Regions from separate parts of the Homo sapiens genome. Here region 2 is linked to region 1. Evidence: fine-mapped expression QTL. Tissue or cell type: whole blood. Region 1 holds a variant in brackets; the other region holds the start of a gene. All regions are shown on one strand. Distances are between the middles of the regions.

Evidence for each region. PIP is the estimated chance that this variant, and not a neighbour inherited with it, causes the effect.
Region 2: NEURL1 starts here. The variant in region 1 is fine-mapped to the expression of NEURL1 in whole blood (TOPMed, PIP above 0.99).

What each region holds. Positions count from the first base shown.
Region 1 is chr10:103,948,689-103,954,713 of GRCh38, reverse strand. All of the region lies in intron 3 of LOC102724351 (a long non-coding RNA gene), which reads left to right. Among named protein-coding and RNA genes, the nearest start is that of SLK, 15 kb to the left of the region's middle. The variant A/G (reference allele first, on the strand shown) is at 2,622.
Region 2 is chr10:103,491,146-103,496,657 of GRCh38, reverse strand. NEURL1 (neuralized E3 ubiquitin protein ligase 1) reads right to left here and starts at 2,953. Exons shown (of 6, transcript NM_004210.5): 1 at 2,186-2,953. The coding sequence starts at 2,270. It overlaps NEURL1-AS1 (NEURL1 antisense RNA 1), which reads left to right. Exons shown (of 4, transcript NR_120675.1): 3 at 1,923-2,097. RefSeq lists silencers at 2,275-2,374, 2,455-2,584, 2,595-2,744 and an enhancer at 2,059-2,608.

The sequences.
Region 1 (6,025 bases):
ATTCTCCCCTAACCGATGTCTAAATTCAATGCATTCACAATCAAAATCCCTTCAGGGTTTTGTCTGAAAATGGCAAGCTAATGCTGAATATGGAAAAGCAAACAATCTACCATATAACAAAAGAGAGAAAAAGAGAACAAAGATACAGGATTTACACTACAAGGTTTCAAGACTTATCATAAGCTATAGTAATCAGGAGAGGTTCTGGTCTAAAGATGGGCAAAAATGAAACATAAGAGAGAACCCAGCATTAGACATACATACATATATATACACATATACATGTATATGTATACATACACATATGTATATGCACACACGCACACATATAGTCAATTGATTCTTGGCAAAGGTGCCAAGGCAATTCAATGAGGAAAGGATAATATCTTCAACAAATAACGCTGAAACCATCAGCCACATGAAAAAATAAAAAGTAACCTCAACCCCCACATTATACCATATACCACAAGTAACTCTAAATGGAATATAGAGCTAAATGTAAGAGCTACAATTAAAAATTATAAAATTATAAAACATCTTTTAAAAATCTTAGTGATCTTGGCTTTGGAAAAGATTTCTTAAATATGACACAAGAAGCATAAACTATAAGAGAAAGAAATTAATGAATTGGGTTTAATCAAAATTTAAAACTTTTTCTCTTTAAAAAATGCTACTAAGAAAGGCAAGCCACAAACTCAGGGAAAATATTTCCAAAACATATACCCAACAAATAACTTGACTCTTAAAGAAGACTTACAGAGCAGTGGGCTTAACCTCATTTGCAAAGGGTCGAGAGAGGCAAGAAATCTGTGGTCAAATAGTATGGCAACACTGGGACCAGATCTAGAAATAGAACTCAGGTGTCCTAACTGCCTGGAGTGTTTTTTCCAAGCCAACTAACCCAATTTAAAAATTGGCAAGATATTTAGACACACATTTCAACAATAAAAAAGATATATGGAGGGCATACAAGCATATGAAAATATGTTCAACATCATTAATCATAAGGGAAATGTAAATGAAAACCACGATGAGATACCAGTCCCCAACCACCAGAATGGCCAAAATTAAAAAGACTCTCCCCATCAGGTGTTGGCAAGGATGCTGAGCAACTGGAAAAACTCATATATTGCTGGTGGGAATGTAAAATGTGCAACTAATTTGAAAATCAGTTTGATGGTTTCTCAAACTGTCAAACATATATTTACCATATGATCCAGCCATTTCACTCCTAAGTATTTACAGAAAAGAAGGTATAGGTCCAAATACTTGCCCATGCATGTTTATAGCAGCTTTGTGTATAATAGCCCAGGTTGGAAACAACTCAAATATCTATCAACAGGTGTATAGGTAAACAAATTGCAGCATATCCATACAAGGGTATACTACTTAGCCATAAGAAGGAATGAGCCATAGATATACCCAACAATGTGGATCAATCTCAAAATAATCATGCTGAGTTAAAGAAGTCAGGCTCCCCCAAAAAAAGAGTACATTCCATTTATACAGTAAACGGAAACAAATGAAAACGAAACTATAGTGACAGAAAGAAGATCAATAGTTGCCTGTAGAGAGAGGAGGGAAGAGAGATTACAAGTGAATATATATGTCAAAACTTTATTATAAAGCTGAATTATAACTTTATAATTGTGAATTATAAATTTGTATGTTCCTGTATAATCTCTCCCGCCTCCCTCCTCCGTCTTCAGGCAACTATTGATCTGCTTTCTGTCACTATAGTTTTGTTTCATTATAATCAATTTTATGACCTTGTATTTTGTTCAAAGGCAAATTCATAGGTTTACCTTAATGATATTAATAAACCCAAATTTACGTTACTGTTCTGCAGTTAACATAGCTTTACACTCAAAGACCCCAAGCAAAATGTTAAGAAATCACCTTTCATTGGTCACATTGTTCATTACAATTTCATTTTCATAGGAAAGAAAAATGGTAGCATGTAGGGATGATGTGAATGGACTTTGGCGCCCCCATCATTACCATTGACAACCACCTCCTTCATTCTTTGACATGGACAAGTATTAATATTATAGACGTAGTTTTTCTCAACATTATGTAAAGTGATATGTAAACACAGCTTAGAGGTAAGTCTGCCAGTTCCAAACGAATAGTTTAGACCCCCCTAAGCCTCTTCCATGTACGATTTTGAGCAAGCACTAGGGGAGGCCTTTCCCTTTCTGTGATTCTTTCCATAATAGGGAGCCACTGCGGTGGTTTTTATACCTGATTAGCACCAATAATCATACTGAGATTTGTAGAGCATCTTGCTTATAATTGATATTTACTGACTTTCACAAAATGTAGGCTTCTGTTGGAACCCTGAAAGTCCTTTCCTCTCACTGAATCTTTCTGCCTCACTCAGGAGACCATCCTAATTCTATTCTACAGCTTTGCCTTTCAAATGTTTGCTGGTTCACATAACAGCAAGGATTAGGGAATTATTAAGGGATAAAGACTGCTTTGAAGCCAAATATTACTGCCATCCCACACCAGAACCAATCCTGCTAAACTAACAAACTCAGAAGCACTTGTTCCCTTCCAGAGAGCTTTCCTTTGTTCCAGAGAGCTTTCCTTTGTCCTCCCCTCAAACCACACGATTT[A/G]GTTTCCCGAGGAAGCCTATGTTCCATTATGGTTTGATAGTATCCAGATTCTCCAGATAAGCTTATTTACAATGTGTTATACGCCTATAAACCAGGCCAACTGAGTTGTTTTCAAATTATTCACTCCTTCTTAGAGCGGGCAAAACAAACTAGTTCAAGTATTTGATATAAAAGCATTGTAAGGTGATGTGCTTCTCCAGCTTCAATAAAACATCATTTTATTAAGGAACAAGGGTTTCTGTGTAGTCAAAGTATTACTTATTCATGGGCTACACAGAAGGAAAAATTCAGTATCCCCTTAATTCCCAAGACCGTGTAGCAAATTAACCAGCAGATTTAAACCCCCTTTATTAGAGTTTTAAATAATGAGTGGAGGCACCATCTTAAAAAAGAAAAAGAACAGTGATGTTTCTGATATGGAAGACGTTTCATCTTTTTACAGTTTGCTGAGCATTGGGGGTAGGAACTCAAAGAGACCAGCAATCAAATGACATGTCAATATTTTAATATGGGAAGCCAGAGCCAAGGAGAAAGAGCCAAAATCCAGTGCCGTTCTCAGCTGCAGCAGCTGCCTTGGAAAGGTCTGAGAGGGGTTTTGACAAATTTAAATTGTCATTGAACCTTTGGAAAACAATTTTGTTAGAGAAGTGGTGCTACAATGTGCCCCCTTCAGGAGTCTTCAGAACTGTCCCAGCTGAGGCTCTCCTCTCCCTAGGCCACATCCTTTTCCTGAGACAGCCCTCATCCACTGACTGCTTGATGCCAGGGTCTGTCAAGGTCTAGCCCCCCTGTCTCAACTCAGGACGACCCTGAAGGGCTGTTCCAGCTTCAGATATCTCAGTGGGGTTAACTGAGGCCTTCACTGAGACTGTTTCATGATCCAACTTCTTCCTGCCCAATCCTGCTTCCTTCCCCTCTCTAAGTATCAAATCCAAGAGTATTTGCATTTCAGCACACTCTTGTCTCACACCTGTTTTCCCCCAAAACCCATTAATTTGTTCTCATCTTATTCTTAAAAAATAGTTGAACAAATAAGATATAAAGTTAAAGATTAGGATCCCAAGGCTGGGCATGGTGGCTCACACCCTTAATCCCAGCAATTTGGGAGGCCAAGGTGGGCAGATCACCTGAAGTCAGGAGTTTGAGACCAGCCTGGCTAATATGGCAAAACGCTGTCTCTACTAAAAATACAAAAATTAGCCAGGCATGGTGGTGCACACCTGTAGTTCCAGCTACTTGGGAGGCTGAGGCAGGAGAATCACTTGAATCCAGGAGGTGGAGGTTTCGGTGAGCCAAGATTGCACCACTGCACTCCAGCCTGGGTGACAAGAGTGAGACTCCATCTCAAAAAAAAAAAAAAGATTAAGATCCTGTACCTCTATTCCTCTAGTACCACATCCTGGAAGGAATCACTGTTAACTATTGTTTGTATATCCTTCCAGAAAATAAGTCTACAACCATATACACACATTTATGTCACTTTTCTGCAGAAGTAAGAGTATCACATGCAAACTGCTCTGCAACTTGATTGATTTCATTTAACATATTCTGCATGTCTTTTCATATCAGTGCATACACATACTTTCATAGTAGTTTCATATTATTCCACTACATAGATGTACCATAAATTTTTAACCAGACTTTCCTACATGAATATGTGGATAGTGTTTTGTTTTTCACTTTTACAAATAAGATTACAAGGAACATCCTCAAATATCCTCTTTGCCCTTTTGTATAGTATATATATAGGATAAATTCATAGACGTAGAATTCCTGATCAAATGTTGTGAGAACTTAAACTCTTTTTAAATTGTAAAATTGCTTTCCAAAAAAACAGCACCAATTTAAATTCCAAAAATTTCCATAGTCAATGTAAGAGAATGCCCCTTTCCTTGCACCCTCACTAGATGTGGACATAACAAAATTTTTAAACCTTTGTCCATAATAAGAGGTGAAAAGATTATATGTGGGGTGCTGATATAGTTTGGATATTTGTCCCTCCAAATCGCATGTGAAATGTGATCACCAATGTTGGAGTTGTTCGGGTCATGAGGGTGGATGCTCATGATTGGCCTCATGGTAATGAGTGAATTCCCATACTTAGCTCCCGAAAGAACTGCTTGTTGAGATGAGCCTGGCACCTCCTCCTCTCTCTCTTGCTTCTGCTCTCTTGCAATGTGACCCCTGCACACACCAGCTCCCTTTCCCCTGCCCCTTCCACTGTGAGTGGAAGAAGCCTGAGGCACTCATTAGAAGCAGATGCTGGCACCGTGCTTCTTGTACAGCCTGCAGAACCATAAGACAAATAAATCTCTTTTCTTTATAAATTACCCAGCTTCAGGCATTCTTTTATAGCAACATAAGCTGACTAAGACACATGCCTTTGCATTAATATTTTTCAAATCCCTTTGGGCAAAGGAATTTAAAAATCTCCCTCCTCTCTTTGCTTCCTATAACCTCCTAGGCGGACTGAGACCATGACAGAACATGGAGTCTGCCATTCAGAATTCCATTTTCACTCCACTTGCCCTTTGGCCAGCCACCTTACACAGTGCTCAAACCGAACAACTACACATGGCAGCACTGGAGCCTCACTGTTTTGAATGATATGTCTTTAATTATGAGTAAGTCTGAACATCCTTTAGTATTTTTTATTGGCCATTTGTGTTTTGTTTTGTTTTTTCTTTATGGAGAGCTATTCTGAGTAGCTGAAAATCCATTGAGGCAATATTTTCATGACTCTGTACACTATCCCAATAGAATGAGTGAATGGTAAATGAAAATATTTCGTACTTTATTTATTATGTTGAAACAAGTCATCTTTAAATTTAGTGATTTTAGGCCACTAGTTCATCAGCCTCAACTAAAATTGCATATCCAAATGTATAATGTAATTCCTATAGAGCTGTCCTCTTTTGATGGTAATAAAGATAATGGTAATGATAATAGATACCATTAATCAAGCATCTAATATATGGTAAGCAGATTAGGAGGCAGGAGAGCTTAGAAGCCTCATACCCTCACCAGCTGTGCCTAAAATACAGCACAGGCTCTGCAATCTGATCAGTTCTATTCTGATCCCTGCTCTACAAACTGTGTAGCTTGGAGAATTTACTTAGCCTCTCTGAAACTTAGCTTCTTCACCTCTAAAGTGGGAACGTTATTATCATCATTATTTTTATTATTAATAATACATTCCTGATGGGGTTGTGGTAAATATTAAATAGTATGTCACTTAACATGGTGCCTGCTACCTGGTAAGTGCTCAACAATTGTGAGTTATGTTGACAGGGCATCTTATGTACATTATGGAACTCTCCTGATTTAAACAAACAAACTTCAGCAATTCTCTGTTGCCAGCACAATACGATTATGTTTGACACTGTGTTCCTTTGAACTGTAGA
Region 2 (5,512 bases), 460 kb after region 1:
ATTAGGAATCTGTTTCCAATGCTCAGAAACAGTCTTCATACTTGCTAACACTGATAGCTTATTTCTGATTACAAAAATAATACTTCCTTATTATAGAAATTTTAGAAAAGAGCAAAATATAAAAAAGAAAAAATGCAATCCCATATGATCCTATACCCAGAGGAAATAATTGTTAACCCTTTGGAAACTTTACAAGCATTTTTGCTTGTTTTGTTTTTGTTGGGGTTTTTTGCATTCACACCACTTTTTAAACAAAATTGGGATCATACAGTCTTCACAACTTTGTATTCTGTCGTTATACTGTGAGCATTTTCCACAGTCATCAACTATTCTTCACAAATATAATTGTAATCACTGCATAGTACTCTACCAAGAATATATACCATGATTACTGAGCATTTAGGTTATCCACCTAGTATAAATAACACTGCCATGAACATCCTAGCCTAGTGCCATAAGTATATATTCCTGCATCTCCACTTCCTTAGTATCAATTCCTCAAGGTAGAATTACAAGGTCAACAAACTGATTTTTTTTTTTTTTTTAGCAAGACAGAGTCTCGCTCTGTCGCTCAGGCTGGAGTGCAGTGGAACGATCTCAGCTCACTGCAACTTCCATCTGCCAGATTCAAGGGATTCTCCTGCCTATCTGCCTCCCAAGTAGCTGGGATCATAGGCACGCACCACTATGCCCGGCTAATTTTTGTATTTTTAGTAGAGACAGTGTTTCGCCATGTTGGCCAGGCTGGTCTGGAACTCCTGACCTCAAGTGATCCACCTGCCTCAGCCTCCCAAAGTGCTCGGATTACAGGCGTGAGCCACCGCACCCTGCCAACAAATTGATATTTTTAAAGTATCTTGACATGTATTGCCATATTAATTTCCAGAAAGACACAACAAATCCACTGATTTTCCTGAGCCAAGTGAAAGCTGAAGTTCTGAAAGAGCTGGAGTATTAGAATGCAGGACAGTGGTCCTATCTCTCCTCCTCTTCCCTGGTCTTAAAAGTTAACTGTTCAGCAAAAGAAGGGACAGAATTCCAAGTCAAAAGATAGGGGTCTACAGCCTAGCACCTAGCGCCGAGGTCTGGCTGGCTTTGGGAACCTGAAGCAAGCCTTGGTTCTCCTCATCTGTAAAATGGGTATAGTGTGATTAGCTCTGCTCTGCTGACTACCCCAAGCAGTGTCCATGCTCACTGAAAATGTGTTTGAGAAAGTTCGATGCCTTGTGTTAAAGGGCACTATTGTTATCCTTCTCATAACCTGAGGAGCTTAGGAAGTGGGGTATTCTTTCTGAAAGCCCAAGGGCTTCCCTTCCTGGCTTTTAGCCATCATGCCCAGGACAAGTGCCACTGGTTCTGAGGTGACAGAAAAGCACCTTCCGGAAGGAATTTAGTAGGGTCTGAGGGCCCGGGAGGACCCAGCAGTGTCTTCCAAAGGTCAGAGACAGCATTGGAAGATCCAAGACAGGAATGGCAGGCTCCGAATGGGGAGACTGGGCCTAGGGCCACCCTGAGGGTGCTGAGTGGATCTGGGGAGGTGAAGAGCAAAGACATTCCTAGTAAATGTCCCTCTGTTTCAAGGCTCCCAGACCCTCTTTTCTAGGGCTCTGACTGGATATCTGGTCTTTGGGAAAACCAGAAATCAAACTAATTCAATGGATGCAAAAACCCAACGGCTGCAAAGGACCCCAGGAACCAGCAGCTCTGACCCTTTCTTCCAGGCTGCTGTAATCCTGTCCTGAATTTTTAAAACCCTCCCATTGGAAATGCAACTAGTGCTCCCAGCCTGGTCTCTCCAGCCCTAGGGCCGATGGAAAGGAGACCCATCGAGGTGCCTCCCTGGAGACACGGACGACCCAAGCTTCCCTCCTCACTCCCCACTCCCCTATCGACCTGGCAAACATCCTTTCCCATCTCTTCAGGCTCGCCTAAGACCATGGCCTGAGGGGACTCCAGTGACGTTCCCAGTGCCAGCAGACAGAACTGCGCAGACCCCGCGGGACGCCATCCTCCATCACCATCATCGCCGGCTGCCCTCCACCCCCAGCCCACTCCACGGCCAGAGGTGCATCTCCGGCCTCCAGACACGCACAACAGGTGGCGTCTGCCCGCCCTCCCCAACCACACCTCCCTGGCCCTCCACCTGCGCCCCAGTCCTCCAGCAGCGCTCGGCCGGGGAGCCTACCTTTGAGGTTCTGGGGGTGGCCCCGCGGCGCGCGGCTCGGGTTTCCTCGGGGCAGCGAGGGGATACTGGAGAAGTTGTTACCCATGGCATCCGGCCCCAGGAGGTTCGGCGCTCGCGGGTGGGGGCGAGGCCGGGCAGGCGCTGAGGTGCGGTGTGCGAGTGTGCGCGCGCGGGTGCGCGCCACCGGGGGAGGGCCCTGCTGGGGCTGCAGCCGGGGGCGGGCGGGCAGCTCCTCAGCTTCCTTTCTCTGGACTTCGCGGTCCTTGGCGGGTTCCGCCCGCCACGGGTGTCCTGGCGCAGGCTGGGCTACCTGCCTCCCATGCCCCGTGGCGGGAGCGGGGGCCACAAGCAGGGCCCTGGGCCGGGGCCGGGGACGCCCGGGGCTCCCCGCTTGCTCCCCGGGACGCTAGGGTTCCGGCTGGGGGTGGGCGGCGCGGCGGCTCCGGCGCGCTCCCCCGGGGCCATAGAGTCAGGGTCGCTGGCGTGGGCGTTCGGCGGCTCCGAGGCAGGCTCGGTTACCGCCCCGCGGAGACGGCCGCGGCGGCGATGTGCGTGGCTCCCTCCCGCCCGCGGGTCTGCGTGGAGCGGGGCTCGGCGGAGCGCGGGGCGTTCTGGGCGCTCCGACGCAGCTGGTGTCCCCCGACCGCCGCGGTCCCGCCCGCGCCGGGTCCCTCCTGCGACCGCCGCCCCCGCCCCCCGCCCCGGCAGTCTCCAGGATTCCCTCGCTCCGGTTGTTATGGTGACAGCTGCGCCGGTGAATGAGCGTCTTAGTGACACGCGCGCGCCCGCTAGGCCAGATGTGGCCCCGGGGCGCGCCGCGTTCCCGTAGCCGCAAGCTCTCGGCGGCGCGGGTCGGGGTAAGACATCAGGCGAGTATGGTGGCACCCGGGGCTGGCCTTATTCCCAGCACGGAAACATGGAACTTGCACTTGAAAACAAGGGGAGCAGGGCCGCGAGAACGCCGAGCTCCCCGGATGCGGGGGCGGGCGAGCCAGCACTAATGTTCGGTTTCCCTAGCTCCAGGTACCGGGCCTGGCGCAGAGTGGAGAGCCCAGGGAAACATGTAAATGAGCGAGCGGATGCTTGGATAAAGTAATTGAGATTAGAACCCCGGCACTTGACCCTCCGTTCTCAGCCAGGCTAGGGGCACTAGGGCAAGGGTTCAGAGCAGGAACCCCGGGCAGTCTCACTGATGCACAGATGCCACTGAGGGCCTTTGAATGCCCGCGGACCAGACTCACAAGCCTGGAGCTCTGGCCAAGCTGAGGGAACAGATCTCCGGGACAGATCATCAGAAGACCACCAGCTCTGAACTGAGTGGTTCTGTTAGCTATAACAAGGTGGGGGAGAGGAGCCTCTGCAGCCTATGGCAGTCAAAGAAGGCTTCCTGGAGGAAGGGGGTTTCAGCAAGGGCCCTGCTCATGTGGCTAGTGCCTTCCTGTAGCTCAACACTGCACCAAGAAGCCTTCAGGAAGGGAAACAGAAGTCATTCTTCTCCTTCCTGGACCCGGGGCATCTCTCCTGGTCTATCAGGGATGGAAGATGTTCCAAGGTTCCCCCCAGGGAATCAGACTTCCTGCTCCTCTAAGTCATCTCTAGCTCCCTGCTCTGGCTTCAGCAACTCAGATCCAGAGTCCAGTGAAGACATGGGTGGGCAGGGGGACATCTCATGTATCCTTTTCTGTAATAAAGGTTCTTCCCCCAAGTCTCCATTTGGCAGCTCCTCATTATCTAGGCACAATTCGTGTCCTGACATTCCCTGACTGCCCCAACTAAAGGACCCCCTCCACTGTCAGTCACTTTCCACAATATTCCATTTTATTTTCATCATAGCTTTTATATGGAACTTGTTTACAAGTAGCCTTTCCTCGTTTATCTTCTGCCTCCCTGCTAGAACATAAGCTCTGTGAGGGGAGAGCACAGGTCAGTCGTGTTCACCAGGGTGTCCTTACCCACTGGGGGAATGCCTGGCATGTGACAGATTCTCAGAAAATAATTGTGGAATGCATGCTTCCCACTGTGGGCCAGGAGGCTCCACTGAGATCCCTGGGGGCAGAGCCTCCTGAACCACCCTTTATTTTCCTCTCCTACTCTCCTCTCTCCATCCCCATTCCAGGCATTCTACCCTTAAATGTCTGGGACTCCAGGCAAGCTAGAAATATCTGTGACAGCCACTGTCTCTCTGGAATCTGGAGGGAAAGGCAGCCCCGAACCCGGCCTCCAGCCTCCCAGATGCCCAGGATCACGTGTGCAGGCAGCTGCAGATGGCCACAGCAGGTCAGGGATGGCTGTCTTATTTATGGGCAGTATCTTCCCAAGGCTCACTCCCAGCTAATGACTCATGCATCAGAAATCCACAGGCTCTTAATGGCAACACACTCACACATGTGCTAACACACCGCTACACTATCTCACACACTCACACCTATACAAGCACACACACTTATATTCCCCCTGAAATCTGCCGGAATGAAGTCACTGTGAGTGGCCACTAGAATCAGGCCTTTCACAAGTTAGAACAAATATGAGGACTCTGCATAGTTGAGACTCATCCTGCTAGAGTGTGTTTGAAGTACAAGGGCCTAGCTAGGATTTACAGACGGTGGCTCCAGGGAAGCCTGGTGTGGGCAGGGGAATGGGGGAGGGGATGAGGCCCCAAAGGTAGAGCACAGCAGGGATGTCTTGAACTGCTGACCTCAGGTGATCCACCTGCCTCGGACTCCCAAAGTACTGGGATTACAGGCATGAGCCACCGCGCCTGACAAAGGGATGTCACAGGCCCCACATGGCCTAGACCTGGGGCTATGGGCAAAGCAGGGGAGAGAGGAAGACGTCAAAGGGAAGGAGGGAAGTGAAGGCCAGAGGCGGATGCTCACCTGAGTCCAGAGGCAGCCCAGGTTCTGCAGTTCAGGGCAGCGTGATCCCAGGGAGTCCCAAAGGAAGGTGAGAGGCGTCAGGGACAAAGGCAGGGAACTGAGGGTTGAGGAGCTGATGGGAGTATCAATAGGGCTGGGATAGGATGAGGTAGCCAAGGCATCCCTGGCGCAAAATTGAAGAAGGCGCCAACTCTCAAGTTCATGCAGATACCAAGCTTGCACTTGCGCGAGCCTGGGAATTAGGTCCTCTTATATTTCACGCCCTAGGCCCCTCTCTACCTTCACCCTAGTACTTCAGGGAGCTCTGTACTGGAAGAGGGGACACCACTGTTAGAGTCAACTAGGTCTCTGGCCAGGAAGGGACCTAGAGGAGGTTGGTGTGGCTGCATAGGACTCAGAGAAGTTGAGCGTGGCCCTTCTGAGGAGTCCTGTGCCCCAGCAACTCCTCCCT